Homo sapiens: one gene and its partners. The protein of the gene in region 3 purifies or fractionates together with the protein of the main gene of each other region. This does not show direct contact. Each region holds a gene or a part of one and is shown on either strand. Other genes may lie near its edges. The genes, in order: ARPC1A, CST4, ACTR3 and ARPC5L.

Evidence for each region.
Region 1: the proteins of ACTR3 (region 3) and ARPC1A purify together in Homo sapiens (affinity purification with mass spectrometry; 9 studies listed by BioGRID and IntAct, with this or other methods). This does not show direct contact.
Region 2: the proteins of ACTR3 (region 3) and CST4 purify together in Homo sapiens (affinity purification with mass spectrometry; 2 studies listed by BioGRID and IntAct, with this or other methods). This does not show direct contact.
Region 4: the proteins of ACTR3 (region 3) and ARPC5L purify together in Homo sapiens (affinity purification with mass spectrometry; 7 studies listed by BioGRID and IntAct, with this or other methods). This does not show direct contact.

Annotation. Positions count from the first base shown.
Region 1 is NC_000007.14:99,342,542-99,350,680, reverse strand, and holds part of ARPC1A (actin-related protein 2/3 complex subunit 1A), read right to left. Parts: intron 6,389-8,139; coding exon 6,166-6,388; intron 1,830-6,165; coding exon 1,722-1,829; intron 1-1,721. UniProt on the Homo sapiens protein: Probably functions as a component of the Arp2/3 complex which is involved in regulation of actin polymerization and together with an activating nucleation-promoting factor (NPF) mediates the formation of branched actin networks.
Region 2 is NC_000020.11:23,685,151-23,693,300, forward strand, and holds CST4 (cystatin-S precursor), read right to left. Parts: upstream 3,889-8,150; 5' UTR 3,820-3,888; coding exon 3,592-3,819; intron 2,052-3,591; coding exon 1,938-2,051; intron 828-1,937; coding exon 744-827; 3' UTR 490-743; downstream 1-489. UniProt on the Homo sapiens protein: This protein strongly inhibits papain and ficin, partially inhibits stem bromelain and bovine cathepsin C, but does not inhibit porcine cathepsin B or clostripain. Papain is inhibited non-competitively.
Region 3 is NC_000002.12:113,955,203-113,963,341, reverse strand, and holds the end of ACTR3 (actin-related protein 3), read right to left. Parts: intron 7,720-8,139; coding exon 7,636-7,719; intron 5,983-7,635; coding exon 5,887-5,982; 3' UTR 746-5,886; downstream 1-745. UniProt on the Homo sapiens protein: ATP-binding component of the Arp2/3 complex, a multiprotein complex that mediates actin polymerization upon stimulation by nucleation-promoting factor (NPF).
Region 4 is NC_000009.12:124,871,793-124,879,035, reverse strand, and holds the end of ARPC5L (actin-related protein 2/3 complex subunit 5-like protein), read right to left. Parts: exon of another isoform or gene 5,370-7,243; coding exon of another isoform or gene 5,350-5,369; exon of another isoform or gene 5,345-5,349; coding exon 5,272-5,344; intron 4,062-5,271; coding exon 3,885-4,061; intron 2,159-3,884; coding exon 2,096-2,158; 3' UTR 1,303-2,095; downstream 1-1,302. UniProt on the Homo sapiens protein: May function as component of the Arp2/3 complex which is involved in regulation of actin polymerization and together with an activating nucleation-promoting factor (NPF) mediates the formation of branched actin networks.

The DNA of each region.
Region 1 (8,139 bases), on a different chromosome or scaffold from region 3:
GAGCAAGACCTTGTCTCAAAAAAAAAAAAAAAAAAAAAAAAAAAAAAAAGTGCACCTCATCTCCCAACCTACCATATAGTCAACACAAAGCAACATTTATTTGCTTTGCTTTCCTTTCAGCTAAAGGGAAAAAAGCATATTCTTGAGAAAGAACAACTTTAAAAAGCAATTACATGGAATTCCATGGTATGATCCTTAAAGTTCTTAGCAAAGTGGCTGCATTTCTTCTAGCTTCAAGCTAATGACAAAATAAAAAGCTTTAACTGAAAGAACAGCACAATAACAGCTTAGCAGCGCACTGTTTAGCTATGTTTTATTAATTGTTTCACTTTGGAATTTGCAGAGACTGCTGCCTGGAATATGAAATGAGAAAAATACTGTTGTCAAGAAAGACAGGGAGAAAGGGAGACACAGAAAGAGATGGTAAGAAAGAGACAGAGACAGAGACAGAGAGAGTACATGCTAATCCTCCCCTCTAAACCATAGATATTCTTACACTTAAGGAAATCTTCGCTGGCCCCACCCTTGCCTCTCCCTCCTACCCCACTTCCAAGTGGATTTCTTTTTACCTCAGTGACTTATGAACTTGTTCTTTTAATCACCATGCTTGAGCTCCTTTTCTGGATCACAAACTGCTTCCATTTTTTTGTTTTGTTTTTGTTTGTTTTTTGAGATGGAGTCTTACTCTGTCGCCCAGGCTGGAGTGCAGTGGTGTGATTTCAGCTCACTGCAACCTCCACCTCCCCGGTTCAAATGATTCTCATGCCCTAGCCTCCCAAGTAGCTGGGATTACAGGCATTTGTGACCACACCAGGCTAACTTTTATTTATTTATTTATTTTGAGACAGAGTCTCGCTCTGTCGCCCAGGCTGGAGTGCAGTGGTGTGATCTCGGCTCACTGCAAGCTCCGCCTCCCGAGTTCACACCATTCTCCTGCCTCAGCCTCCCGAGTAGCTGGGACTACAGGCACCCGCCACCACGCCCGGCTAATTTTTTGTATTTTTTTAGTAGAGACGGGGTTTCACTGTGTTAGCCAGGATGGTCTCGATCTCCTGACCTTGTGATCCGCCCACCTCAGCCTCCCAAAGTGCTGGGATTACGGGCGTGAGCTACTGCGCCCGGCCTCTTTTGTATTTTTAGTAGACACGGGGTTTCACCATGTTGGCCAAGTTGGTCTTGAACTTCCAACCTCAGGTGATCCGCCCACCTCAGCCTCCCAAAGTGCTGGGATTACAGGTGTGAGCCACAGCACCAGGCCTCATTTTTGAGTCCCTCACAGTGCCTAGCGCAGTACCTTGCAAAGAAAAGGAAACTTACAGGCCAGGCACACTGGCTCATGCCTGTAATCCCAGCACTTCAGGAGGCCAAGGAGGGAGGATCACTTGAGGCCAGGAGTTCAAGACCAACCTGGGCAATGTAGCAAGACCCCGTCTCTACAAAGAATAAAGACAATTTTAAAAAAATTAGCCAGGTGTGGTGGCATATACCTGTAGTCCCAACTACTCTGGAGGCTGAGGCTGGAGGATCGCTTGAGCCCAGGAATTGGAGGCTGCAGTGAGCTATGATGGTGCCACTGCACTCCAGCCTGGGTGAGAGTGAGACCCTGTCTCAAAACAACAACAACCACAACAAAACAAAAAACAAAGAAAGAGAACCTAAAATTATTTGTTGAAGGATGAAGAATGCACGGCTCAAGTTTATCAGTTCTCACTGGTTCCCACCTGCATTTGAAGTCACATGATCCTGCTGCCAGCAAAACGTTGTTGGGATGCCAATCCAAGCTGAGGACTGTGGAGCGAATCGGCTTTTTAATGTGCTTGCTCACCCACCTATGAGAGGGGAAAACTGTTTCAGTTTATCCACTCAACCAGCATCCCCAAATGACCTACAAATGTATGTCAGGTGAAAATACCTAAGTAGGCCACACTTTTCCTTAATTTAAAAAAAAATTATAAAACAATTCAGAATATTATTTTTTTCAGAATAAACTTTTTCAGATAGGTTTCTATAAAAAAAGATTCTATAGAAAAGTAACAGAGCATTCAACGTTCTTCTGTCGGTCACCAGGCCTTCTGCCAGAGACAAGGTTTTTTGATACCAGGTTATGATCTGAGACTGGCTAATTTTTGTATTTTTTGTAGAGATGAGATTTCTCCATGTTGCCCAGGCTGGTCTCAAACTCTGGGGCTCAAGTGATCTACCGGCCTCAGCCTCCCAAAGTGCTGGGATTACAGGCATGAGCCACTACGCCCAGCTGACAAGGTGCATTGCTAAAGGACAGAAAGGAAAAGAACCATGAACAGGCCTTCTCCACTCCTGGCCCTGATGTTCTCAGCACAACAGCTGGTTTTCAGCAGTCCTCATTAGTAAGCATAGATATTGATTAACTCAGTTATGTTTTCGTGAGATTTCGGATTACATAGGACGTTAACCTCTGAGATAAAAACTGAAGTTTGAAAATACTTCAATTTTTATTATGAATATTCAGTGATTTGCTGAATTTTTGGTGAATTTGGGGTTGTAAGACAGCTTAATATCCTTCCCAAGTCTCCACGAATCTGCAAATTCTTTTTAATTTCTTTCACTGAAAAATCACAACCAAGAAATTAGAAGAACCTCATGTTGGGGATTAGCCTCTAATTCGCTAGCACCATCCAAAAAAGATGATTTATGTCTAGGACCAGTCAGTATTTTGGCTTAACTAATTCATTTCTGCCCCCAAACTGCTGTTTAAAAACCAATCACGTCTGGTTGCTCAACAGTTGGGAGACTAAATATTGAGCCAATGCCTTTCCTTCAATGCTAAATTACCTTTCTATAGAATCACTTTCTTTCTTTTTTTTTTTTTTTTGAGATGGAGTTTCGCTCTTGTTGTCCAGGCTGGAGTGCAATGGCGTGATCTCAGCTCACCGCAACCTCCACCTCCCGGGGTCAAGCAAGAATCACTTTCTTTTATTTATTTATTTTTTATTTTTTTGAGACAGAGTCTTACTCTGTCATCCAGGCTGGAGTGCAGTGGCGCAATGTCAGCTCACTGCAACCTCTGCCTCCTGTGTTCAAGCAATTCTTGTGCCTCAGCCTCCCGATAGCTGGGATTATAGGCTCACGCCACCACGCCCGGCTAATTTTTGTAATTTTAGAGGAGATTAGCTTTCACCATGTTGGCCAGGCTGGTCTCAAACTCCTGGTCTCAGGTGATCTGCCTGCCTTAGCCTCCCAAAGTGCTAGGATTACAGGCATGAGCCACCACGCCTGGCTACAGAATCACTTTCTTAGTATCCTGTCTGAAGAAGTTCATTCTGAAAAAGACAGCCAGGTGCAGAGGCTTGCAACTATACTCCCAGCACTTTGGAAGACCAAAGCAGAAGGATTGCTTGAGTACAGGAATTTGAGATCAGCCTGGGCAAGAAAAGTGAGAACCTGTCTCCACAAGTAATCAAAAAATTAGCCAGGTGTGGTGGTGCAAACCTGTAGTCCCAACTACTTGGGAGGCTGAAGTGGCAAGACTGCTGGATCCCAGGAGTTGGAGACTGCAGTGAGCCGTGTTTGTACCACTGTACTCCAGACTGGGTGACAGAGAGAAACCCTGTCTCAAAAAATAAATAAATAAATAAAATAAAAAACCAAAATCCCCCACAAAGTCTCTAAAAAAGGAGAAAAAGACAGTATTTCGAATTGTTTCATAATGTATACATATTTTTTGAGACAGAGTCTTGCTCTGTTGCCCAGGCTGGAGTGCAGTGGCATGGTCTCGGCTCATTGCAACCTCTACCTCCCTGGTTCAAGCGATTCTCCTGCCTCAGACTCCCAAGTAGCTGGGATTATAGGCATGCACCACCACACCTGGCTAATATTTTGTATTTTTAGTAGAGATGGGGTTTCTCCATGTTGGCCAGGATGGTTTCGAACTCTTGACTTCGTGATCCGCCTGCCTTGGCCTCGCAAAGTGCTGGGATTGCAGGCGTGAGCTACCGTGCCTGGCCTTTATAATGTAATTTTTTTAATTAAGGAAAAGATGGCAAGCAAAATAATTAGTTCATATGGCTGAATTATAAACTTCTGAGAAGTTGTTTTAAAGTACTCCTATGAAATATGAAATAATTGTTCTACAGCTGAGAAACTGCCCTAAACATACAGCTTGTTCAAAGACAATACCTTGTACCATAATAAAGTCCAATTTACCTATACTTGACACTAATTCTCAACGAATAAAAATGTAAACAATTACTGAGGTTGAAGCTTAACTTGGAAGAAAAGTTTCCTGTAGAAATTTGTAAGATTGCAAGGAGTACCAGCTGACATAAAGTTTAGCCTTGAGAGAATATTAATGAAGTTAGTTTCCTATCTCATTACAATGAAACTTCCAAATAGTTTCTAGCAGGTAACATTTTGTTAGCCTTGATTTCACATTTGAAAGAAAAATGTATGTTTCAAATTCGTAACTCAATTTTTTTTTTTTTTTTTGAGACGGAGTTTCACTCTTGATGCCCAGGCTGGAGTGCAATGGCGTGATCTCGGCTCACCGCAACCTCTGCCTACTGGGTTCAAGAGATTCTCCTGCCTCAGCCTCCCAGGTAGCTGGGATTACAGGCATGCACCACCACACCCCGTTAATTTTTTTGTATTTTTAGTAGAGACAGGGTTTATCCGTGTTGGTCAGGCTGGTCTCGAACTCCTGACCTCAGGTGATCCACCTGCCTCGGCCTCCCAAAGTGCTGGGGTTACAGGCATGAGCCACTGTACCTGGCCCATAACTCAATTTTACCGCAAATTCCCAATCTCTTTTTGAAGAATAAAATTTCTGAAGTTTTACTAAATTACAAAGGTAACATGATAATCCCCTTCTTTCAATTTCAGCAGAATACAAATAACAAAACAGCTACAAAGAGTCATGTATACTCTGCTATTTTTAGTAGAAACACAAACACTGCCAGTTTAGTAGTAAATGACAACTTTACGTTGAAGGATATTTACCAGTCATGCTGAACACATGCCACACAGAAAAATAATTTTTTTTTTTTTTGAGATAGAATCTCACTTTGCCGCCCAGGCTGGAGTGCAGTGGCACGATCTTGGCTCACTGCAACCTCTGCCCTCCGAGTTCAAGTAATTCTCCTGCTTCCTCCCAAGTAGGTGGGATTACAGGTACCTGCCACTGTGCCTGGCTAATTTTTGTATTTTTAGTAGAGATGGGGTTTCACCATCTTGGCCAGGCTGGAGAATAATTGTTTCCTTATCAAAACAAACAGGAAGGAGTAGTTAAAATAAGTTTTGGCCATAAAATAAACCTGTGTTTTGACTGGGTCAGCAAGAAGTAATTTAAAAAATGTGCAATAGCTGATTAGACTTCTAAGATTCTGGTGAGTTTTGACTTCAACAGTTTAAACAAGTAAAATATTACACCAAGACACAGATTTGGTTGGCAAATAAGCTTTAAAGAAGGAACATTGACCAGGCGTGGTGGCTCACGCCTGTAATCCCAGCACTTTGGGAGGCCGAGGCGGTGGATCATGAGGTCAGGAGTTCATGACCAGCCTGGCCAAGATGGTGAAACCTTGTCTCTACTAAAACTACAAAAATTAGCCGGGCACGATGGCAGGTGACTGTAATCCCAGCTACTCAGGAGGCTGAGGCAGGAGAATTGCTTGAACCAGGGGGCGGACGTTGCAGTGAGCCATGATCGTGTCACTGCGCTCCATCCAGCCTGGGCAACAGAGTAAGACTCTGTCTCAAAAAAAAAAAAAAAAAAAAAAAAAAAAAGAACATTGTTATCTGTAGGAATCCTACATAGATATCCTGTGAAAAAAAAAAAAAAAGAAAAAATATTCCTCAGGGAACGGAGACTCTTTCAATGTTATTATTTGTAAATGAGAGTAAGAAAACAGCAATTTGCGCAGTATAGAGTGAGAACAGTAATAGCATCTTGCAGAAGAAACAAGTTAGGCGATCAGAACATGGACACAATAGCTCTATGTTAATATAAAAAACGTGCGATTTAACTTAACATGCACATGAGAAGGGAAAATGCTCAGACAGAATCGAGAATTTCAGAGAAAAAACCACACAACTCCGGATGAGAAAAACTGGAGTTATGGTGAGCCCTCACACAGCAGTGCAAATGTAAATTCTATAGAGAGGGATAGAAAAAATTCAGATGTCACTCACCAGTCATTTTCAGACTCAAAGTAACAAACAGAAATGAGTCGTGCTCCACTTCCCACAGCAAATTTGTTCTCTAGGGGGGACCACTTCACAAAAGTAGCTGCGCGATTAATTCTCAGGATCACCAGGGTTGGCTTCCAAACACCATCTTTCTGACTCCAGACATAGGCATTGCGGTCTGCCCCACAAGTGACAATGCGGTCGCTCTTGGGAGCCCAGTCAATACCTGCAAGTGAGACATGGGTCATCTGCTTTGCCCAGTCAATGACAAACAACTGCGGCACAGGCAGGTGGGTGGCACTGGCATGCCAGGATGAGACGTGGTCTTGGGACCTTCCTCCCAGGCACATCCTTCCCACTATCTATGTCCTGATCACCGCCTCAAGGAAAGGCAAGGATGCTTCTCTGCAAAGCGTCTGGGACTCGGGATTGTCTATGAGGTCATGTAGAAGAGCTGTTTTATAATTACAGACTTTACAAAACTAAACGGGGCCATTCTTTCCACCCATTCACACATTTCTAAGACTTCTAAAGATCTGAAGATTCATTACTTCTTTCTTTCCTCTTTATTAGATTTTTGTGTGTGTGAAAATAACTGTATTCATTAACACACCTCATTCTATGATATTAACCAACAGTCTGCTACATGGCATTCAACTAAAACAGCATACAGGGTAAATAAAAATAATCTTTAGTGTAAAGAGGGGGAACTATATATTGTGATTCATCATATATTCTTCTGAAAGTCACTGCCAGTTGAACCATACTGAAAACCTTTTCTACATGATGCAGGTCCTGTGAAAGAATCCTTGTTTCTTTGCATCTAAACCAGGAAGATACCTAAATATGTATCTGAATGTAAGGTTTATTTTTCTTATTTGATGAGACTTTACTTATCTGGTACCTCTGTGAAGAATCCCAAAGTCAAGGTCAGTTTTTCATATACCAAGACTCAAGGTCAGTTTCTTATATACCAAGAGCAAAATTCACCATGACTCATTTAACACTTATTGATGAGGTATTTTCTTTTCTTTTCTTTCTTTTTTTTTTTTGAGATGGAGTTTCACTCTTGCAGCCCAGGGTGGAGTACAATGGCACGATCTCAGCTCACTGCAACCTCCGCCTCCCGGGTTCAAGCGATTCTCCTGCCTCAGCCTCCCGAGTAGCTGGGATTACAGGCAGATGCCACCATGCCCGGCTAATTTTTGTATTTTTAGTAGAGACGGGGTTTCACCATGTTGACCAGGCTGGTCTCGAACTCCTGACTTCAGGCGATCTGCCTGTCTCAGCCTCCAAAGTGCTGGGATTATAGGCATGAGCCACAGTGCCTGGCCTTGATGAGGTATTTTCTATAAATATAATTTCACATTAAAAAGTACAGAAATATTACTAATAAATATTTATTACAGATCTCTCTCTAAAAATTAATAATTAGCATTCTTGACATTTATATGGAAAAAAGACAAATATACCTCTGAGCCTCAATTACCCATAAGTCATAGTGACTGAAGAGTTAGGCCGGGCGCGGTGGCTCTTTGGGAGGCCGAGGCAGGCGGATCACGAGGTTAGGAGATCGAGACTATCCTGGCTAACACGGTGAAACCCTGTCCCTATTAAAAATGGAAAAAATTAGCCGGGCGTGGTGACAGGCGCGTGTAGTCCCAGCTACTTAGGAGGCTGAGGCAGGAGAATGGTGTGAACCCGGGAGGCGGAGCTTACAGTGAGCCGAGATCGCACCACTGCACTCCAGCCTGGGTGACACAGCGAGACTGTGTCTCAAAAAAAAAAAAAAAAAAAAAAAAGTAGTATGAAGAGTTTAGTTTATTCATTCATTTACCCACATGAAATATCAGCTCAATTTTTTGTACCACTGAAGGGAAGAAAATATGAGAATGTGTTCTAAGTGATGTTTATTTTATTTATTCATTACAAGATAATTTTGCTTGCTGTCCTCTTTATTAGATTTTTTTTTTTGAG
Region 2 (8,150 bases), on a different chromosome or scaffold from region 3:
CTGTGGAAAGAACTACACGTCAATCGCTGTCTATTTAGTGTCTAGGGGATCTGATGAGAGCAGCTCAGTCCCTGGAGTCTGCTCCACTCTGCAAGCACAGATGGAATCTACGTCCTGGCGAGCTCCACCGAGGCCTGGCCCCTGCCTGTGGACACAACCAGCCCCCTCCTCCTGGTCTGACCAGGACCTCAGACCAAAGCACCAGCCCAGCTTCTGGGGCAGCTGCCTGGGCCCCCTCCTCTCCCTGACCCCCTCGCCAGGGGCTGCTGCAGCTGAAGGCTTGGGTTTCCAGCCCCTGGCTGCTCTCTCCCTGTTCTGAAGCTGAGGTCTCCAAAAGTGGCAGCAGCTCCCCTGATGGCCTTGCTGTGGCCGCATCAGCTCCCAGGTACTCCTGTGATCTCCACACCACCAGGACAAGGAGGCTTCATAAAGGAACTGCAGAAACTCTGCCTGTGTGCACATCCCCAGACAGCCAAGAACTCAGAGGGAGGCGATGCTACTGTTTAATTGCAGGAGGTGGGGGTGTGTGTACCATGTACCAGGTCTATTAGAAGCAAGAAGGAAGGAGGGAGGGCAGAGCGCCCTGCTGAGCAACAAAGGACTCCTGCAGCCTTCTCTGTCTGTCTCTTGGCACAGGCACATGGGGAGGCCTCCCGCAGGGTGGGGGCCACCAGTCCAGGGGTGGGAGCACTACAGTGGGTGGGAGTGGGTGGTGGTCGGTGTGACTGGCCTGGCACAGACCCCTAGGCTTCTTGACACCTGGAATTCACCAGGGACATTCTGTCCTCCCAGGGAACTTCGTAGATCTCGAAAGAGCACAACTGTTTCTGTGAAAGGGAAGAGAGAGGGCCAATCAGTGTGGGTTACAGTTAAAGGGGAAGATGCCCAGGCATGAGATGTCACAGCCTGGGTGAGGAGGATGGAGGTGAGACACTGCACCCTCACCCACCCCTGCTGAGTCCCAGAGCACTGAACTAGAATGAGTAGTGACTGTACCATTACCCCTCCCAAGGCTCCAAGTCACCAGGTGGCATTGGGCCCCCACCCCAGCCTGCAGTGTCCTGTCCCATCACAGCCCTGTGAGGAGCAGCCTGGGCAAGGCCTCGGGAGCCCCAAGGGTGCAGGACATGGGGAGGTGGCTCAGTTCCCCCAGCTCCTTCCACCTCCAGCACCCAGGCCAGCACTAAGAGGGGCCAGAGGGAAGAACCCAGGGCAGGGCAACTCCCCCTCAAAGAGCTGGGGCATGGGTCAAGGGCAACAAGGGGAGTGCCGCTCTCCCCTGAGTGGAGACCTCACAAGAACCAGCAGGTTCTTGGAGAGGCTGGTGTTGGGTGAGCCGGGCAGGTCCAGGGCTTCCCAGCTAACAGGCCTCTAGGTCCCACTAATCTGATTGTGGCTTTGGCTGCATGCAGGTGCCTGAGGCTGGGATTAGACAGATCCCCTTCTCCCTGCCCAGCACCCAGCCCCGCAGGTGATTCTTCCTGTCCAACAGGCAACACCCCAAAGCAGGCAGTTGACCTTCTAGTAACCATTCCCAAGCTAAAGCCTTCCTAGCAAATCAAACACATCACCCCCTCCCTCACCACCCCATCTGCACACACATAGGCAACTACGTAAACTCACTTGGACCCCTCATCCCCATGGATCTATGTACAAACCCCCATACTTCCGCCACACACCCACACACAGGCACACATGCTTCCATACACCTACCCGCACACACTGGCACATGTGTGTACACACGTGCACCTTTCCACATGCACACCTACATGCACACCCCCCCATAAGTACATGAACACGTACACATCCATGCATACACGGCTCCCCACATACCCACCTGCACACACACACCGTCCAAACATGGGTAGGACAGAGGCTGACACATACGCACCCCTCTGCAGTGCATGACTGGCCCGGGACCCGCATCAGGAACGTACCTTCTGCAGTTCTGGCTGTTCATGGAAGGCACAGGTGTCCAAGTTGGGCTGGGACTTGGTACATATGGTGCGGCCCACCTCTACGTCGAAGAAGTAATTCACCCCCCCAAAGGTCTGCACACAGGAGAAAACAGGAAGCACGGACAGCGCCCCCATCAGTTCATGCACTCACAGGCACTTCACTGTGGCTGAGTCACTGGACTTGCTTGGGGGCTTCGTGAGCTGCCCACATGTCAACACAAGGCACACAAGCCCCCTCTTCCTGTCAGCTGGCAGGGTGCTGAGCCTCATGCCCGCTCTTAAACATCGTTTTCTCTGTGCTGGGTAAGAGGATTCATTGAATTCTGCTACCTGTGGCTCAGGGGTGAGGGAACACTGACTCTTTTCTAGGAAGGCTGTCTGATGACAAAATTTCAGCTAACTCACGAAAATCTTATTCCCTCCATTTAACCTAGATTTATTACTTCACTTAGAGTAGGAAATGAGATGCTTCACACACACAGATATTTTGGGTCAATGGGGCCGCCCAGATGCCACCATTTCAAGTGTGAGGTTCAAGATACGTTTCTCAAGTCAGCAGCACACCTGAGTGTCTTACAATTGCAGATTATAATTGAACCCTTTCCCTGCACAGGGCCTCTCCCAGACACTACGTGGCAGAGCTGTGGAGAAACCTGGGATGAGGGACTCTTTGGAACCAGGAGGAACTGCTGAGATCCCTCGAGTATCAGTTTACCCATGTATAAAATAGGCTTCCAGGTCTGATGGTCTGCAATGCCCTGTGCTTCACTCCAAGTTACTGTCATGCTTAAGAGGGAGATGCAGGCCAGCGGGGACCATGGCACCAGGGAGTGCACCTCCTGTGCAGGGTGAGGGCTCCAGCTGACAGCTGTAGGAGGAGAAACGGGACTGGTCTGGATTCCTTTGAATTTCTAGAAGGTGGAGGAGCTCTAAAGGCTGTGTCACTATTTGCTGCTCTGCCATGGGATGCAGGTCAAGCTGGGCCCAGTTGCCCTGCTGAAGCTCACTCTGGACCTAACCCCTCCTCTGCTCTGCTGGGTGACTGCTGTCCTCATCTGGCTGAGGTCTAACTCTGCATCAGCTCGTAGAGGCAGGGCCAGGCGTGCTCCACCCCAGCAGGGACTCAGCCATCCTGGCCTGCAGGGGTGGGTCAGCCTGCCTGAGGGTGAAGGCCACTAGCCCTAAGGGGCTGTGCCCAAGGGCATGACTTGGGGAAGGAAGAAGGGCTCTGCAGAACAGGGAGCCAGGTTCCCATGTGGCCCCTGAGGAGAGGACTCAGGGAGGAGAATGAGCCTCACCGCCTGGATCTCATCCTGAGCAGCATCAAGCCCACCCAGAGTCAGCACAGTCTCCATCCACACCTGCTGGACGCTGGGAAATGCCACGGTCATGGTACAGACACAGCAGCTGCTGCAGGTTAAAGGAAGCTGCAGCACTTCCTTTAACTGTCTGCAGTGCATGGACCGGGAGCATGCTTAGGCATGAAGGGCATCAGCGGAGAGTCAGAGAAAGCTGAATGAATCTGAGCATTAGATCATGAATGTGTCAGTGTTGATTTGCTTGGAATGCTCTTGGGGGTCCGGCAACAAACCAGGCTAGGGCTCAGGACCCCTCGGGTGGAGGCAGCACCCACCTGCTCCCTGGCTCGCAGCACCTGCAGCGGGCGTCTGTAGTACTCATCTTCGGTGGCCTTGTTGTACTCGCTGATGGCGAAGTGAAGGGCACGCTGTACCCACTCATCATTGAGGTCTGCATCATAGATGCCACCTGGGATTATCCTATTCTCCTCCTTGGAGCTCGAGGCCAGAGCCCCAGCCAGGGTAGCCATCAGGAGTAGCAGGGTACACAGAGGCCGGGCCATGGTCTCCTCAGAGGCAGAGCACAAAGCTGGAGCTGCAGGAGAGGAGGGTGAGAGCCCGAGGCAGGGAGCCCAGACCAGCAGGCAGGTGTGCATTTATCCTGCTTTGGCAGCCCAGCCCCACCCACCTCCATGCCCTGCCCCTGACTCCTCCTCCTCTTTCTGCCCATCCCCTCTTTCTCCATCTCTCTTTTCACTCCCCCACCACTACAAGCTCCCTCCCTGCCTAAGTTCCCCCTGCCCCTCCCAGGCCTCCTCCTCCATCTCCCCCTCCTCCCCACTCCAGTCCTCACTGCAGCCTCCCTGAGCCATGCCTCTCTTCCCCAGTGCTCCCAAGCTTGAGTCACCCAGGTCTCCACAGAGGTGACACTGGTCCTTTGACTGTGAAAGCAATGTGACTTCCTGTTTGCTCAGAAAGGGGAAAAATACAGGGCTTGGCCTCCCGGGGTCTTCAGATATCAGAGGCTTCCAGGAGCACTTGGTCACGGTCTCTGAATCTCTGGAACAGAGAGGTTATTTCAGAAGGTTCCAGAAGACCCTGTCCACACCCTAATATGGAGAATTTCTTTGCCAAATTTAAGGGAATTAACCTTTTTGGAAAAGGTCACTGGCTTCTGTTTTCATAACTCATTATTCAATAAACAAACCTATCACCAGTTACTGCCCATGCCAGGAGGTCTAGGGCTTGAAGACGGAACCTGGATGATGAGCCATAGAGGTGACATTGCAGAGCTGCTGCCCACAGAGATGTGACATGAACCCACAAGCATTTGAAAATTTCTAGTAGATGCATTTTAAAAGATGAGAATAAATGGGTGAAAGTAATGTTTAAAATATTTATTTAACCTAATATAGCCACAATATTATTTCAGCTAACGGGAACAATTATTAATGAGATCGTTTATGTGTGTTTTTTTTTTTTGGTTTTGTAAATCTTTGAAATTCCCTGTGTATTTTTTACACTTAGCCCAGGAATCATTTTGGACTGGCCCCATTTCAAGTGTCCTGTGGCACATGTGGCTGGTGGCTGTGGAACTGCACAGTAAATTCCTACACAGTGTGTGTAGAGGATGGTAGGTTACGATCAACAATTAGGATCAGGGAGTTATACTCACTCTGTTGGAAGTGAAATAGAACAGGGGCTAGAGAGAGACCACTGGACCCTGGTCAGGGTGGTCTCTATGAGACTGGAGAGGTTGAGCAGCCCCAGGCAGCGGGGAACAGCCAGTGCAAAGGCCCTGAGGTGGGGTTGGGACATGCCTGCTCCAGGAAGAGGAAGCTCCTGGAGGGGATGTGAGCAAGGGAGGAAACCACCTGGAGTCTCACGGTAACTGTGGGTGAGGACCGGTGGAAGGTGCACGGAGACCCCTGTGAGGCAGTGGGGGTGTCAGGAGAGGGAGCAGCAGCCACGGGATGAATGTGGGAACCCACAGGCCTCTCTTGCTTCTCTCCTAGGCAGCCATGCTTCAGGCTCCTTTCCTCTGTGCACTCCTTGGAAGACTCACGTGGCATTTTAAAAATTGCCTTAAATGAGGTAGAATTTACATACAATAAAATGCCTAATAGTATGTGCCCAATCTGGGGGATTTCATAAATGCATACACTTGTGTTACCACTTTGTCCAGACCTGTGACATCTGCCTTGCCCCAGACGGTATCCTCCTGCCTCTCCAGCCACCCTCGTGCCCGCCCCACCCTGGCAGCCCCCATCCGGCCCTGTAGACACCTTTGTCGCCTGTCCTTGAGCTTCCCAGGAATGGAGTCCTGCAGAGCGAGCCCTGATGTGTCTTCATCCTTTGCTCAGTGTGGCTTTCCAGCGGCACCTGAGTTGCTTCATTGCCAAGACTGTGAGTTCTCCTTCTCCACAGACTGAGAGGATGTGGTCAGTTGGGTGTCCTGTGGGCTGACAAAGCCCCCAGCTTGGGATGCTGTGGGCCTGGGCTGGAATGTGTCTCCAGGAGTGGGGAGGGTGGAAGGAGGCTCTGAACAGACAGCTGCTCTCGTTGTTCTCTCAACCCCACCCTCCATGCCTGAAGGTGACCCTGTGGCAAATGCCCTTATGGGGAGGTGGCAGGCTTGGCCAGAAACTCCAGGAAACCCTGGGCCTTAGCAGGACACCCAGAGGACTGTCTTGGGAGTGGTGGAGGTGAGGGTTGGCCAGTGTCAGCCCAGACCTGTTTAGAACACTAAACAATACTATAATAAACAAATGACCAAGCGCAGAAAGCATCACGTAAAGGTGCAAGTGATGAGGACAAGCTGGCCAAGAGTCATCCTGGGCTCGGACATGTCTGGGGATGGATCAGCAGGAACCTGGCAGCAGGAACCATATTACTTATGGGTGCTCATGTTCAGTATTACGACAGGGAACCTTGTTACCTGAGTCCTGGTGACCATCTCACCCCACTGTGAATCCAGCACCCCTAGAATAGCCATGAAGCCTGGCAGATACAGCAGGTGTCCCCATGGTGTTTACTGCTGGGTGAGGGAGGGAAGGTCTTCAAACAGAGCTTTACATATGCCTCCTAGTTAGACAGGAAATGGGGAGAGATTCCCAGAGAAGGGAAAGAGAGGGAAGTCCCTTACCAGGTGTTTGTGAGCAGAATGGTCATCTCCAAAGGGTAGGAGTTAGTTCTCCTCTGTGTCTCCCACCTTCCTGGGACAGCTGGGAGTCCAGACTCAGGAAGACATACATGCTGTGCAAAGGGTAAACTGAAAGTCAAGCAATCCTCTTGTTTTTTTTTTTTTTTTTTTTTTAATCATCAGAAAGGAGATGCAGGTAACCCAAATAGCGAGAATGTGCTGGTGGGTGGAGTGTGAGGGAGGGAGGCCAGAGTGCTGACCTGTGCCCCATATGTGATGACACCACCAGTGGTCATCTTCTGTCAGGACTCTGGCATGCACTGCAGGGAGGGTCAGCTGTCCTGATGCAGCAAACTCTCTAATCCCAGTAGGAAAGATACCAATGTAGGTTGCTCTTAGGAGGAGGTACAAGTGCGATGTCCAGTATGGAGTTATAGGAAGTGGCAGGTTGAGGTAGCTGGCCAGCTGCTCCAGATATTTGATGACCTTAGGTAAATGTTGTGTCTGTCGTGCATCTGGAGAAAGAGGCTACTTTCTAAAGCATAGTTTCTGGGATTTCAGACCAGCAGAGATGAGCGGACTTCAGTAGCGGTGTATAAACATGTTTGAAAATGATGGAGTAGCCAGGTGTGATGGTGCACATGTAATCCTAGCTAATTAGGAGAGTGAGTCAGGAAGATTCCTTGAGTCTAGAAGTTCAATTTCAGCCTGTGTAACACAGTGAAACCCCTATCTCAAAAAAAATGACAGAAGACTTTGATTTCTATAGTCCACAGTTTTAAGGACACACTAGGAGGGGGCCAGATAGCAACCATGGACTGAGGAACAAGCTTGGGGCCTCCAGCACCCATGTAACCTGGAGGAGTCCAGCTGCCCAGGAGGGGGCATGTTTTCCTTCTGCCAGGTGACGAAAGAGAAAGCTGTGTTCCCCTAGGCTGCATGGTGACTACTGATCCGATTATCTGAATTAGTAGGATGAGAAATTAGGTGACAGGCAGAAGTTCTCTGCAATAAATGACCAATAATAAGTGAACACTAAACAATACTATAATAAACAAATGGCCAAGCTCAGAAAGCATCACCTAAAGGTTCAAGTGGTGAGGACAAGCTGGCCAAGAGTTGAGATTCTGCACATCTGGGTTTTGAGCAACTAACAGTTTGGTCTATGGTAGGAGCTGGGACTGAGCAGCCACAGGATTTGGTGACTTCTCAAATGGGAAGGCCAGGAGTCTCCTTTATGGAGTGCCTGGAATTCTCTGGGGTCAAGCTCGTCTCTTTCACTCCATCCCTCCTTCTTTTCTCCCTCTCCTCACACATGGTGGACACGTGGATGCTTCTAAACTATGAGCCAGTGTTGGTAACACATTTGGTTCTGCTAGAACATGTGGATGCTTCTAAACTGTGGGCCCATGTTGGTAACACATTTGGCTCTTCCACATCATTAGGAAACTGTGATACTCATGGGGAAGCCTGCTGGTAGCCCTGGCTAGGAAAGGCGAGAGAGGGCAGAGCCCAGTGTCAGGTCTGATTGTTTTGCACCCCATGGGGAGAAGGAGAATCCTTTCTCTCAGGGACTAGCACGTGAATGGTATTCATGGTTCTGGAGTGCAAGTTAACATTTATTTTGCAAAAAGAGCGTTTGTCAGTGCAGATTCACTGACTGAAGAACCACATATGAATGGAGGGGAGTAGGGGCGGCCTCCGGGAACTCGGGCTGCTGGTTGCTGCAGCCAGGGATCCGTCTGAGTCCCT
Region 3 (8,139 bases):
TTAAGAGCTCATTGCCTATTCATAAAGTCCAATCCAATCTCAAAAAGACTGCTGAGTTTTAGGCTCCTTCCTTAGTTCAGCACATTAGCCTGGTAACTATCTGGTAACTATAGTATCAGACATGACTTGGTCATCTGATACCTCCCTCTAGTAGTCTAGCACAGGAATCTTGCTATCAGCTTTCCCAATAGAATGAGTCAGAGAAGCTAAGAAATGTTGCCAAATTAATTTTGAAAAAAATTTAATAAACCATATGCTATTCAGTAAAATATCAAAAAAATTATAACCAGTAAGTTCTATTCTGCAACTACCTGTGTGGTCTTTGCAAAGTCACTTTTCCACAATGTTATTTATGTCAATCATGTGTGTGATTTCACCCTGAACTGCATCAACTTTTTTAGCCAATGTTTGTGTTTGAGGGTGTGTTTGAAGGTGTCAGATATCCTTCAGTCTTCTCTCCCACTCTTCTCCTCACTTCTCCTAATCACAATATTCTAATCCCCTCCCCAATTGCTGTAACTCAAGTTGCTTCTGCCATATCTAAAATATCATCCCCACCTACTCTCCATCTACTAAAACATTCATCTTTCAAGGTTTGGGCTAAGAAAAATCAGTCTACTGCAGTAGAAACTACCCCACTAGTGCTTTAGTCATCTCATGAATGTATACATTATTCCAACTAATCATTTTAGCATTTAAAACAAGTCTCAGATTTTCTTGTTGCTCAGGAATTTATTTGGGAAAGATCCCATGTACCCACAATAAGAAAAAGATGTGTGGTTCCAATTCCGATATCGACTTTCTAATATAATTCCAAATAAGATTAACAATTTACTGCAACCTTGAATCTTATTAATTAAAAATGGAGGAAGTTTAGAATTAAGTCATCTCTAAATCAAGTGGTTTAACATGGGATCTGGACAATATCAAAATTGATCAATAAAAGCCAGAGGGAGAAATGAGGCCTGTTTCTACTGTTAATGTTGAATGTTACATTTCAGGACATGTCAATTACCTTGTACAACAATCTGATTTAGAGCCTGTGATCATTTACACTACAGAGATTTTGAAATGACTGAAGGCTTAGATAATTATTTAAGACCTGCTTCAGAAAAGTCATGATCACTTAGTAATCCCCCACTACCTTACGCAGAATGTCACTTCTAAGGTAGAAACTAGTGGAACAGAAAAAAAGTCGTAATTCGGTCATATTTGACAAATATGGGTATTTTGAAGGAACAAAAGTTGTATACTCATGTAATTCAAAGTTTTATTTTAACATGAAAAATAATTTTTACTCATTCATTCATCAAACACATCCACTAAACTACTATATGCCAAGCAATATGTCAGGCACTGGAAATATGAAATGAATAAAGCAGATGCTACTGTCGAATTACTTTCATCTGTTGTTGGATGTAACACTTAGGTAAAAATTTTAGGAGCAAAGTACTAATTTTTAAACAATAGATCCACTTTTATAAGCCCCACTTTCACCTTACATAGCTGGACTTCTCCCTCTAAACAACTAACACTACCATTTTTATGAAGAGAAATTCCGCACTTACTATCTCTCAAATCTTATCTAGGCAAAATATTTGTCCCTCCTCTAAGAGTGCCTTTACTATTAGACTAAGCCAAGGACAGAATATTTATTCATCTTTATGCACAGTACTTGAACCACAGTAGACAGTCAATCAATGCTTCTGGGATTGAAGGCTCAAAACTTGATGCAATATATAGGTAATATAAGTGAATGTTGGTGCTTGAATAAAAGAGAAACTTTATTTTAATTCAGCATCTTAGTTTTAATGTAATTATAAAAGTCACCAAAAATTGACAGAACACTAGAAAACAAGTAATTGCTAAATCAAAATAGAATATCGTATACTTTTAATCTTTCATTTTTTTTCTTTCAGGTTTTTCAGTTGCCTTCTTTCCTAGATCACGTATTTCTATCGTTGTTCCTTTTTTATTGTTCCTGTGACCACTGGAGCACTAGTAATAAATCCTTAACTCAAATAGGTTATATTTAATTTCAGCACCCAAGCTCCAAATGCATCAGCTAAACTGGGTTATAGCATGGAGAATACCTCAGACGACCACAGATTTTATTTTTGTTAAGATTCTATCAAGACTGAGGCAAATTATAATAAAAGTTCTCATATCATAGAAAACAAATTACGTGGAAAAGGATAAACATTTATACAGTACTGAAGCGTTATCAACAATGAGTAGCAGAAATTCTTTTTCACTGAAGTCCAAAAGCCATCCCAGCCCTCCAGCAGATCTAAAGATTCTTGCTAAAGGTCAATTCAGGATATAGACCTAATACAAGAACAAGGTATTTACTGTCAAGATTTGCTATGAAAGTTCCACGTAACTTGTAACAACTCTGTCCTTGGCCAACTATATATACAAGGTGCTGTTACAATGAAATATATTTTAAGGCACAGTATTCCAAACTGAGTAGAACATTTTGCTCCCAGAGTCTGCACAGATTTTGGATTATTTATACCAGCTAATAGAATTAGTACCAATTAACCCGAGTTGGAAATCTGGGTGGTAACAGACTTCAGAGGGCTATCCAAGGTACTCATGCCTGGTGACTATGAACTACGAAAGATCAGAAAGAATGGGTCACAGGAATCAAGGTTGAGCTGGTAAGAAAAGGGGGAAAAGACTGGACTTCAGTATTGACAGATTAGCCCAGAATGAAGAGGAACAAAAACATCCTTTACTATGGTACAAATAAGCTTTATAACACAAATAATCTTCTCAATAATTTTATAAACATTCTAGTATCATCTTTAGGGTTATCTGAAAGAAGTTTCTATAGATATATTCTCTAGTACTTTTCTGTAGAAATTAAAAATAAAGATCATAATTGGCCTATTATCCCTGTATTTCATATTATTTCTAAAAATATTCCTAGAAATATCTGCAAGAATAGTTATTTTAATCTTTTAAGTAGCTGTGAAAACAAACCAAAAAATTGTATTGGGGGGTCTGAATAACCACTTTATCTCCTATAGAAAAGAAGATAGGTAAGAAGAGGATGAGTACTTATAGTAGGTGCCATGAATTAATGTCTAAGGGTGAAGATGTGAAATTTGCTCACTTTTTGAAAAGCAGGCATCAAGTTAGATAATGATCATTGATTTTATTTGTCCATTACTATTTCCCACTTGATCAAAGCACTGCCTATTAAAAAGGATAAATCAGATAATACCTTTACTACCACTAATGAATCAATAGAAAAGGCTAGGTTTTGCAGTCAGAATCTACTACACTGCTAATATTGCTATTAATAAGCTACATTATATTCTAACAACTCAAAGAAATTGCAGGATAATCCAGTATAATGCCTTTACCTTATATATAAATTGAATCAAGGTCCAGAGAGTTCAAATAATTTGTCCAAAATAATACAAATATATTTTCCAAGTTTTAACAAAAAACAAAGTTCGAGGAGCTATATCATCAATTATCAGAATCAGAATTAAAAATTAAATCACTGGCTTCAGTTAGTGCTTTTGCTACCATGCTCACGTTGCTTGATATCTAATCAATGTTACAGACTATTTAGTTCACCTTGGCCAACCTCTACATATTTCCAGCTGAAGTTGCTTTAAGTTGAAAAAACGGTATACAATCACAGAGGAGAGATATAAAGAAACAAGAATGCTGCTACCATCCTATTAGGGTTCACTCCTCTAAAAGTAGAGCAAAGGGATATCAGAACATACACAAGAAGGGCTGGAGTTTTGTTTCCCCAAATAAGTTAAGCGTAAGCTTCAAGAAAGTTTTTGATCTTCATGTTTTTGTAGCAAACAGTTAAGAACATCTCTGTATAAATATGCCTGAGATTGTCATCAAATAGCTTTATAAACATGTCTTTCTAGCTTATTCACTTAACTACCCAACCATCGCCGGTGGAAAAGACATATTTATGACAATGCTAACAATATTTTATTGGGCCAGGAGCATGACATCTTTACTGCTTATCAATATAGTTCTTTATCAAAAGATCTTTAATAAAAGCAAAGTGCAGAACAGTATATACAGTAAGTTCCTATTTGTGTAAAATAAGAAAGCTACATTTATTTCTACCTACACAGAAAATTACAATACAAGGACATCTAAGACATTCCAAGTAGTCTGTGTAATGATGGAAAAATGAGACAGGCTAGGGAAAAAAACTTACTTTTGCTAATCTACTCTTTGGTACTGTTTGAATAGTATTTTTATAATGTTTGTGAATTACTTTTCCAAGTAAAAAAAGGAGACCTTTGATACTGATGATGATACTACTGTAGGATATAGTTTGTCTTTTACAATCCCATACTCAAAGAATGAAGATTCACAAAAATTATTATAGGATTTTAAATATTCAGATCCACTCTAAACAAAAACTGAAGTTTACTCCCCAATTCTATCTTTAGAGTAAAAACAAAAAACTAAACACTTTATATTCTTTCACTTTTGAATAGACGTATTCCAATCCTAACGTGTTATTTTCATGAATAATGGAGTTCAAGTGTTCACTGATACTGCTAGTAAAAAGCCTATAAAACATTTCCCATTTTCTCTTTCTATAAATAACTGGTAAAATTTTAAGGTCACAAGAAATTTTCTACCATACACATTACAGAGATTTCAATAACTCCCAAATCTCAACAGAAACAGATATCACATACATAAAAACAAAATAGAATTACATTACTTAAAAAAAAAAAACATTAGAAAAGGTAATTCAGTTTTAATTTATTTTCATCACTTTTTCTTCATAATCCAGATATTTTAAAATGCAAAGAAAATTAACTTTCAATGATATGTTCAGGGACTGGCACTAAAAAAAATTTTCAGACTGCAAATGAGTTATACAAATGAAAATATCAAATGGAGATCCAGTTATCAAAATGAAAGCACTCAACATATTAAAAGTTCACAAGTATTTGTATTGAGCACATTACAAAAGTCAGCTTGCTAACTGTTGTGATTTTAAAGAACTATTGCAGAAGTCTGAAGAAAATAGATTTATTAGTTAACTTATAAAGAGATTAAAGAGGCTGAAACAAGTATTAAAAAGAAATTTGTGCCTTTATTAGAATGTTAGGCTTTAAATATGCCAATTTTGATAAATTATTGTTGTTGTTTTGTTTTTTATAAGAAATGACACTACAGAACTGCAATACTGGTCCAACACTCTTGTCTTTACTCTTCTTTTAAAGCAAGAAACAGAATGCGAGTAATCAGAAAGCACTAGCAGGCATCAGTTAATCCAAGATACTAGCTCTTAGTTCCAAAAGCACTTGCAAAGAAAACCTTTTGGGGGGAAGGGGTGGAGAGGGATGGAAGCACTCCATAATAACTGGAATCCCACGAGTGTGTATGCCAAGTCTCATGAGGCTATTTTTTGAATTTATCCTTTACTTGGTCATGGTTTTTTCCCTCAAATACAATTTTTCTTTGACTTTTTTTCCTCAAAGTATAAAAAGTATGAAATATAAACAAGCTCTTGCACTGCACACTTAGAAGTGTACAATTCAAGCATTATAGAGCTATCTACACACTGATAAATCCCATCGAATCTTGGATAATTCATTAATATACAAAATATCAGGGCACAGAAAGAACTAAAACCCACTTCTTTTTGTTACACATAAGATTCAAATATTCAATCTAAAGAAAAACACAATCACTTTCGCTCTCTTCTACATCTGCATGGTGATACACTTATTAAAATATTCCTGTATAATCATGTTTGGTGTTACTATTTCAAGTCAGGTTTAAAACCTCAAAACCAGCCATCCAGACAAAACAGGTAATCAGAAAGATTATCTCTTCCCCACCTCCCTAACCCCAATAACTATGAAGCCAATTTTACGACATGACTCCAAACACTGGATTGTGACGACAAATGCTAGGTCCAATTTCTTCATAATCCTTTTTGGTGTGGCATACTTGGTAGAACTCAGGCTGAAAACAAAAAATATGTATTTTTATAAGGGTCAAAAATCTACCATCTTGAAGGTATATTGAAATAAACTTTAAGAGTGATGCTTTAAAATAGATGTTAAGTCTAAAATGTTTATTATTAGTCCATTCATGGCATGAAAGCTTAGAAATTCTAGCAGCCATGACTTAAAATCAGCTATAAATCTTTATCGGAACTCCAAAAGAGCAATTAACTCCTGTCCCCAATCCTTGTCTCACACACCTGCTGCGAGGATTCTGAAATTTTGAAAAATGGAAGGTTCTCAAATGTCCAGTCTGTTCTGTTGAGACTTTCCCATACTTTCATTGCACCAATAATGTAAAGAAGCGGCATTCGCCTAACTACAGATAAAACTACTCCTAGTCATGCTATGACTATTTTTCGTCTAGTTCTAAGAAATGTCTAGATCATTTGCCTTCCTCATTCAAGGTCTGGAAAAGATAGACTGTTCCATGCTGTGTTACCTCATTTCTCAAGGCAAAGTCACAAACTCAACTAGGTTATATGGCCCAATTGAAGAAGACTAAAATTGAGGAAAAAAATAACTTTCACCTCTTATGTTGGAAATGGTTTTAAATCCAAAGTTGTACAGTTATTCAATAATTCAGATAAAAGCTCCTTCATTTTAATATTGCATGCACTACCAGAACAAAGCACCAATACTTCCTAGGTTAATGGTATTAGAACACTAGAACACCTTTTTAGGGGGCTTTAAAGACATTTTAATTTGGGGACAGGATTCTTAGAATAATTCCCTTTATTCAGTGTAAAACATCATACTTTCTATGCAATGAAGCTTAACTTTTACCTTAATGTTTTTAAATACTTAAACAGAACAAACAAGGACCTTCTGATGACTAAATTACCAGTTTTAACAGAACTTTCCCTACAGATAAACTTTAAAACATAGTATAAAATGGTCACTCTAAAATAATGTCTAGCAAGCTAAAAAAAAAAAAAAAATTAAATTCAAATGACTTCCAATTAAATTTAAATTACTTCCAATTTTTAAAATACTACAAACACATATATACAAAGTTTCCTATTATTTTGAGATACAATTTAAAGGAATTTGCTTTGTTCTTCTCCAAGTATTGATGGACTCTTCTATCTTAAATATATATATATAAATTTAAACATAAGCTTCAGCCAGGCGCAGCAGCTCACACCTGTAAACTCAGCGCTCTTTGGGAGGCTGAGGTGGAAGGATCACTTGAGCCCAAGAGTTTGAGACCAGCCTGGCCCAACATAGTAAGACCTCATCTCAATAAAAAATAATAATAATAATAAAGGCCAGGAGCAGTGGCTCACACCTGTAAACCCAACACTTTGCTTTGGGAGGCCAAGGTGGGCAGATCCCAAGGTCAGGAGTTCAAGAGTAACCTAGCCAACATGATGAAACCCAGTCTCTGCTAAAAATGCAAAATTAGCCAGGTGTGGTGACGCATGCCTGTAGTCCCAGCTACTTGGGAGGCTGAGGCAGGAGAATCACTTTAACCCAGGAGGTGGAGGTTGCAGTGAGCCAAGATCATGCCATTGCACTCCAGCCTGGGTGACAAGAGCGAAAGTCCACCTCAAAAATAAATAAAATAATAATGATAAAATAAAATAAAAGTAAGCTTCATCACACTCACCGTGGAAGCCAGCATTGATCCTCCAAACCAAACTGCATATCGCTGCATGTGGTGTGTAATGACTTGTACATCAATAGGTTTTGGCTAAAGAAAGACATAGTATGATCATCTTCATAGTAAATTCAAATAACAACTTCTGTGTCATTTAACCTTAAATGTACATATACAAAAATAATATCTGTACTAAATTCAGGTGGTATCTTACAAACCAGAAACAATTGAGATTGGCTGTCTCAGAGGAAAGGGGTTGGGAACACTGTGGAAGAGACAGGGAGGGAACAGAGCAGAATAAATGGAAGGGAAATAACAATGAGCACATGTTTTATACAGTTCTGACTTTAAGAATCTAAATGTTAGTGTTTTACATACTAAAAAATAACACCTTAAAAGAAGGGGAGGTTGGGGCAAAACAAAGTACAACAAAAACAAATTAAACTAATTGTACTTTTTTCAAACATAAGCACACTAAGGTGAGGAAAGGGACTAACACAAGCAACTTGTGAG
Region 4 (7,243 bases), on a different chromosome or scaffold from region 3:
CCAGCTCAGGCTCTCTGCCTTCCAGAGGCCGCTTCTCCAGTGACTAACCTCCTCCTCTGGCTCCTCCTTGCAGACAGTTATCCCTTGTTTAGAACACGAATTTCCATTTACCTGGTGGGAACACGAAACAGGAGTCTCTTCTGTTCTGCAAGTTTGATGGGTAAGAGGTAGCCTTTTTTCAAAGTAGGATTTCCTTTTTCAACTGTTCCAGGAAAGAATCTCTAAGACTGGGTAGCTCACAGCCAGCCAAAGGCAGCTACATTTCCACAGAAGCCCATCCGCTGCCTCCGTGGCTTCTCCAGCCATTGAACTGGTCCCACACGCACCCCAGGCCCCACTCCTCGGCAGTTTCAGGTGTAGCTGTGGGGCCCGTTCCTAGGTCTGTACTCACTTTAGGGAGGCTTCACTGACTAGGCTTTCCTCCTGCATGTTGAATTTCCTTCAGCTTTAAGAGGAAGAGTGGAATAAATATTCTAAGTGATTTAATGCACTTTGACTTGTATAAAACTTTCTGTGTTAGCGACGGTATCTATAGCCCTTTATACGAGCGATGGATCTTGAGCTCTCCTTCCATGTTGTAAATAGGGATTGTATTCTTGAAAACTGCTGTAGCAAATTCATCTGTGGTGCAATACACTTTTTGATTAAAGCTCTTCAATCCAGATGCAACTACAATGGATTTTACTAGTTTGGTGTGTCAGTATTTCTTTGACTCATTAAATCTGGTATTTTGTGTCTCATATTTAACACTCCAAGGCCAACCTCAAGGGCTAGAGAATGTTTGTCTTTCTTTCAGAAAGAACCTTCCCAGACTGGATTTGGGTGAATAAATATACGTAATTTAATGAAGCCAACAGCCCCATTCTACCCCCCCCAAGAATTGCAGTGGTTCTGAAGAGGGACTGAGGAGGGGAGAGCTGTGGAGGGGAGGACTGTGTCACTTTGGTCAAAGTCTGTATCCAAAGGCTGTATGACCCAGAGGAGCTTCTGGAGTGTGAATGGGGCCCTAACCTTTAACAGAATGCAAGCTGCAGTCACATGTGCTGAAAAGGAAAGAAAAGCATTTTTGCCCTTCAGAGAAGCTCTGTTATTGGTTATGGGGAACCAAATTATACCATCTATTTGCTGATTGATTGCTCCCCATTTCTGACGTTTAGTTCTTTAAAGAAAGCTTGTCCATGCAGCAGTGATTCTGCAGCACAGCCAACCCAGCATCAGGAGACGTGACCAGGCACATCTGAGGCCCCACCCTCAAAAGATTCCAAGTGCAATCCCACAAACTGAAGACTTTTAAAGCCTAGATCAATTATTAAATGTTTGGCACTTTATTAAATTAATTAAATAAGCTCCAAAATTAATTACATACAAATCAAAGGAATAAGAAACAATAAATAGTTTATTCAGCAAACACCTCTCTGCAGCAGCCGGCAGCTCTGAGGCCGAGGCTGGCGTCCTGTGGCAGAGGGCCTGTGGATTGCCATGCTCGCTCCCAGGGGTGGCTCAACAGGGACACAGGTCTACTCCTTCCACATCGGGTTTCCGGAACAACAACTGAACTCTCATTCATTACCATCCCATTCATTACCATTTTTTTTTACATACACGAAACACACCGCAATGTATAGACTAATAAGCCAAGAGCTTTATTGATGCAGCAGGCACTTTACAATGAGCCCAAGAGTGTCCACCTTCTCTGGGAAGACAGGATGTCTGTACAAACTCTTGGGTTTTTTTCCACTTCAAAAACACAAGCTCTCCCGTTTACCACAGCCCTTGGATCTGCACCTGCCCAAACCATCCCTCCCCCAGTGCACACAGGTGCATCTGACCAACACCAGCCGCCACGCTGGTAGACCGTCAAAATGTCAGTTCTGCAGTACTCGGAGACAAAGGCATAGACTATCAGATCCTAAACAGGATTTAGGAAACAGACGATTTTCCCCTCCACCTTGAAAATAAAATACATTTCAGCAGATACATGTCCTGAAATAGTTTACTTGGGAGTTCCTAGGAAGATGGTCCATTGTCAATCCCTTCTTCACCAGCCTGGGCATCCAGAATTCTTCTCAAGGTAACATGAGTCTTTTTATTTTTTTTAAACAGTCTTTCTTGCTGTAAGAACTCTTATAATGGAGCCTAGTCCTCCTACTGCTAAGGCCTGTGGGGGCAGGAAAAGAAAACGTGTCAGATGAGACCTGGCTGGCCAAGGGGAGCCTGGCTTGCCAGAGACAGGGGGGACATTCCCTGACCTAGATCCCGTCACAGATCCTCGAAAGAGGATTCCTGAGATAGAGCACATTCTAGGGAAGGAGCCCTGTCCTGGAGCCGTGGGGTCCCGAGAGCTGTTGGCTCTTGGGCAGAACTGGCTTGAGAACACTGTCACCAGCACACAAAGCAGAGCCCTCGAGCTTCCCTTTTGAGATGGGGTCTCACTCTGTTGCCCAGATCACAGCTCACTGCACAGCCTTGATGTCCTGGGTTGAAGCCATCCTCCTGAGTAGCTGGGACCACAGGTGTGCACCACCAGGCCCGGCTAATTTATTTTTTTTGAGACGGAGTTTCGCTCTTGTCACCCAGGCTGGAGTGCAATGGCACGATCTCGGCTCACTGCAACCCTGCCTCCCCAGTTCAAGCGCTTCTCCTGCCTCAGCCTCCCGAGCAGCTGGGATTACAGGCGCCCGCCACCACCCCCGGCTAATTTTTGTATTTTTAGTAGAGACGGGGTTTCACCATGTTGCCCAGGCTGGTCTTGAGCTCCTGACCTCAGGTCATCCGCCTGCCTCCGTCTCCCAAAATGCTGGGATTACAGGCGTGAGCCCACCGCACCCAGCCTAGTTTATTTTTTTGTAGAGATGGGTTCTCACTACATTGCCTGGGCTGTTCTTGAACTCCTGGGCTCCAGCAATCCTCCTGCCTCAGCCTCCCAAAGTGCTGAGTTTACAGATGCACACAAGCCCACTGACTGCCGCCCGCTGAGGTGACTGGCAGGCACCAAGCTGCCTTAAAGGGACGAGAGGTCCTGGCCTCCCCATCATACAGAGGACTTGTTTACTTCCTTGAGCCCAGGAGAGGGGAGGCCAAGGAGGTGCAGCACACCCGCCAGCAGACCTAAGGCCACAACCACAGCCCAGCACCCACACCACCTTAAGGACTGGCCCACTGTAAAACCCCTCTCTTCCAACTCAACACTGAGCCTCTGAGGAAGGCAGGCAGGTTAGTAACTCCTGGTCTGCTTTAATGGTGGGCGTGCTTACTGCGGCACTAGGGGTGTGCAGGGGAGGGTGTGGGAGGCAGCCCCAGTGGTACAGGCACGACACAGGCTTGCCAAAGGCCTTGCTCTCACACGGACCCAAGCGAAGGGCAGACACAGCTCTTTCTGCTTCACCTGGACGAAGGCCATATTAAGTGAGGTCAAGGTTTCTGCCCACTGCTCACTCTGGCCTGCTAAGGCTGAGGCCAGGGCAGGAAGCCCTTAGAGCTGGCTGGAGGACTCTATTTCTAAGAACCCCCAACAGCTGCCTCCACCACTGCAAGTATCATGAAGCCCCAACCAACCAGCAGGCCCCCTTCCTACCTAGACTCCCTGACCACCTTACTATGCCATGTTATCTGCCCACATGTCCTGTACCAAGGGCACCCTGTCTTGCCTGACATAAATCGGCAGCTAAAAAGCAAAAAAGTAACTGCAATTACCACAGACAGCAGGTCCCTACCAGGAGCTTCCTTGGGAGAGGGAAGTGATGACATGTCCCAGGTTGGGGCTCGTCCTCTGACCCCACACGCCTATCAGACCGTCCTACGTTTGTTCTGGAAAATCTGGCCTGCTGATCGAACCCCAAGGCAAGCCAGGTGGCTCACTGGGGCGCGTGGCAGCGTTCACATACCTTTTCGTGCCACTGGAGTAACACTGCGCTGCTATTTTCTGTGGGCTTCTCAAAGCCTTTATAAATGTACTTCATTAACAAGTCAACGCCGTTTCTGTCCAGTGACTGCACAGCCTGCTCAATCTCACTGCTCTTGAAGTTTGTGAGCACTTTCAGCACCACGCCCTGGGCTCGCTCCTGCAGACGAAAAAGAGCAAGTGAGTCCCAGAGCTGCGAAGGCACCGCCATGCCATGCCCCACACCAAAGCAAGGACACAGATCACCAGAAACACTGCCCAGTTTCTAATTCGTCCAGGATGGTTAAAATAAGTGGGTTAGAACGTCTTTTGTGGATTTAAATTTCAAAGTATCTTTTATTTATGCCAACAAGTTACCCTACTTATTTTGGGGGAGTAAGTAGTTTACTAGGACAAGTATCAACTCTGAGAGAGAGAGAGAGAGAGAAGAGAAAAGAGGGAGAGAGGGAGGGAGGGGCAGGGTCTCGCTCTGTTGCCTGAGCTAGAGTGCAGTGGTGCAATCTCAGCTCACTGCAGCCTCTCCCAGGCTCAAGCAATCCTCCCACCTCAGTTAGGGCTACAGGCACATGCCACCATGCCCAGCTAATTATTTTTTTTATTTTTTAATACAGACAAAGTCTCGCTATGTTGCCCAGGCTGGTCTCAAACTCCTGAGCTCAAGCGATCCTCCTGCCTCCCAAAGTGCTGGGATTACAGGCATAAACCATGGCACCCAGCCCATCACTATTTTAGATGACACCAATAAGGCCTTATTATACTCCACAATGGTGGTGGACTATTAAAAAATAAAAATAAAACCAGGTTGACTCGGCTGCAGCGTCCCTCTTGTGTTCACACCCAGAAGGGTGGGGCCATTCCCCAGAACTCTGTGAAGGTGCAGCCACTGGTGACATCAAGATGCTGTCACAGCTGCCAGAATCCCAGCTGCAGGGAGACCCCTTTCTCTGAACCAAATTTTAGACTTGGTGATGCAGTAAGCACAATTTAGTTTTTAGAAGGTAGGAAAGCGTACGGGTACTTAAAATCCTCAGGCAGACAAAGCCTATTTAACAGTCTGTGGGAGCATAAGCACCACAGGTGAGCGAATTCATCCATTTTCCTCATCAGCCAGGGCCAGGCTGACTTCTCAGCCTACGAGGCCGTGAGCAGGAGTGAAGGCTTCTGTGGGGAGGTTCTCGTATATAAACGCTGACAGCGTTGATGTCAGAGAAGCCTCACCACCTAGGGAGCGCCAGGAGGCTTCCCTGGAAGCCCCGCCCAGTGCCAACTCACTCCCTCTGATGTGGATGAAAGCTCACACTCGCACTGGGCAGACACCCACAGCCCTGGTCCCAACAGCACCCAGCAGAGCCGCAGCGCCACCCCTTTACCTTCACAGCTTGATTCTTGGTGTTGACGGGAGAGTTCCGCAAGGCTGCATGGAATGCCCGAAGCATGTCCCCTGTGCATCACCACCAGTTAAGGATAGCTAGGCTCAAGCACATCCATGCCGTCATGAACAAGCTCACTTCAGAAACAGCTCAGGAACAGAGTCAGATGGGATCTCATCCATACCACCCACCTTCCACGGCTTCCAGGGGGGCAGAGACGGTTTACAGCCTGCACAGGGAGGCTGCAGGGCACCTCTGCCAACCATGCAAACCCTCCTTTCAACTCCCTCTCTACCTTCCACGTCAAAGCAACTGTCCTGGAGGGGTAACTTGATGTAAAATTGGATTGTGCTCACTTGCACCTGCTTGGTGCTGAGCACTGTATCTCCCCTACTGGATCCTCACAGCACCCGTACATGTGAACTGGAGGTCGTTCTCATCTTCTCATTCTAAAAAAGCGGAAAATGTAGGTACAAAGGGAGACCTCCTAACTCTTCATCAATGCTCTTCATCAATTAAACTATTAAGGAAATTAAGATGTGCTAGAACTTCTAAGATCTATCGGGATCAATGAGGTCCCAACTGTTACCTGGAAAGAGTTTATCAATCTAACAGAAGCTTTTGCCAACAATGAGCCAGTCTCCACCCTTACCCCCCAACCTCAGTTGCAATCCTGACAACACATTCTTTGCTGAGTTCTGAATACCCAGCATGCAAAAGAAAATTACAATCTGGGTTAGGTCCCCAAAGGTGACACCTATTTTAAACTGAATTACATCAGCCAACTTTCATTTCCTCGTATGAAACACTGGCTTCAGCCAAAAAGCTTCAAAAATAGAACAAGGAATGGCTTCTGCCCAATCGGGTCTCTACTCCTCTTCATGCAGTGATACCCACGTGCAGACAGGAAGGGCCTTCGGAGCAGAGCTGAATCTCCTGGCTTCCCCAGTATGAGATCCATCTTGAGTGAGCTGGGTCTGCGCCACCAGGCAAGCCACTCCCAGCGCTGGTTCCCCAGCTCCCTGCTTGGCTCTGATCCACCTTCCACACTCAAGAGGCAGTCCAGTCCCTCTGTCTTTCAGTTCTGGAGTTCCTTTTCCCCATCCAAACAAGGCCAGCCTGATATCAGCCACTGATAACCTCTACTTTGTAACTCCTTTTTTTTTTTGAGACGGAGTCTCGCTCTGTCGCCCAGGCTGGAGTGCAGTGGCGCAATATTGCCTCACTGCAAGCTCCGCCTCCCAGGTTCATGCCATTCTCCTGCCTCAGCCTCCTGAGTAGCTGGGACGACAGGCGCCCGCCAGCACGCCCAGCTAATTTTTTTTGTATTTTTAGTAGAGGCGGGGTTTCACTGTGTTAGCCAGGATGGTCTCGATCTCCTGACCTCGTGATCTGTCCGCCTCGGCCTCCCCAAAGTGCTGGGATTACAGGTGTGAGCCACCGCGCCCAGCCCTTGTAACTCTTTTCTAATGTGGTGTCCCCAAAGCAATAAGCAGGATCCCATAGGCTGAACAGAAAACATAGGCTCACTTGCTCTTCATGTAAACCTGGCACAACTAACAAATGACATCATTCAAATGATGGATGGGGAAGGGCAGGTATAAAACTAGTCCACGGGGGCAAAAAGCTACTGCTGTGGCGTTAACTCAGCACCACGCGTCCAGCAATCACTCGGCCCATTGATGGGTGAGGGCCTTCAGCAGTTGGGAGATGTGGGGCGCAGGGAGGACCTCCCTGAAGTCACCTATCATTTGTGAAGCCGGCTGTCATACTTGGCTGGCTTTAGGCCTTTTCAGAGAACAGGCTGTGGTGCTGAGGGAATCCTGCCCAGCCCTTGATCTCCTCTAGATCTTCCTCAATCACGGCACAACTGACACTGTGGACCCAGGATTCTCTGACGTGGGATCTTAGCTGTGTGTCATAGGCCTCTGCCCACTGGATTCCAGTGGCATCCCCAAGCTGTAACCATCAA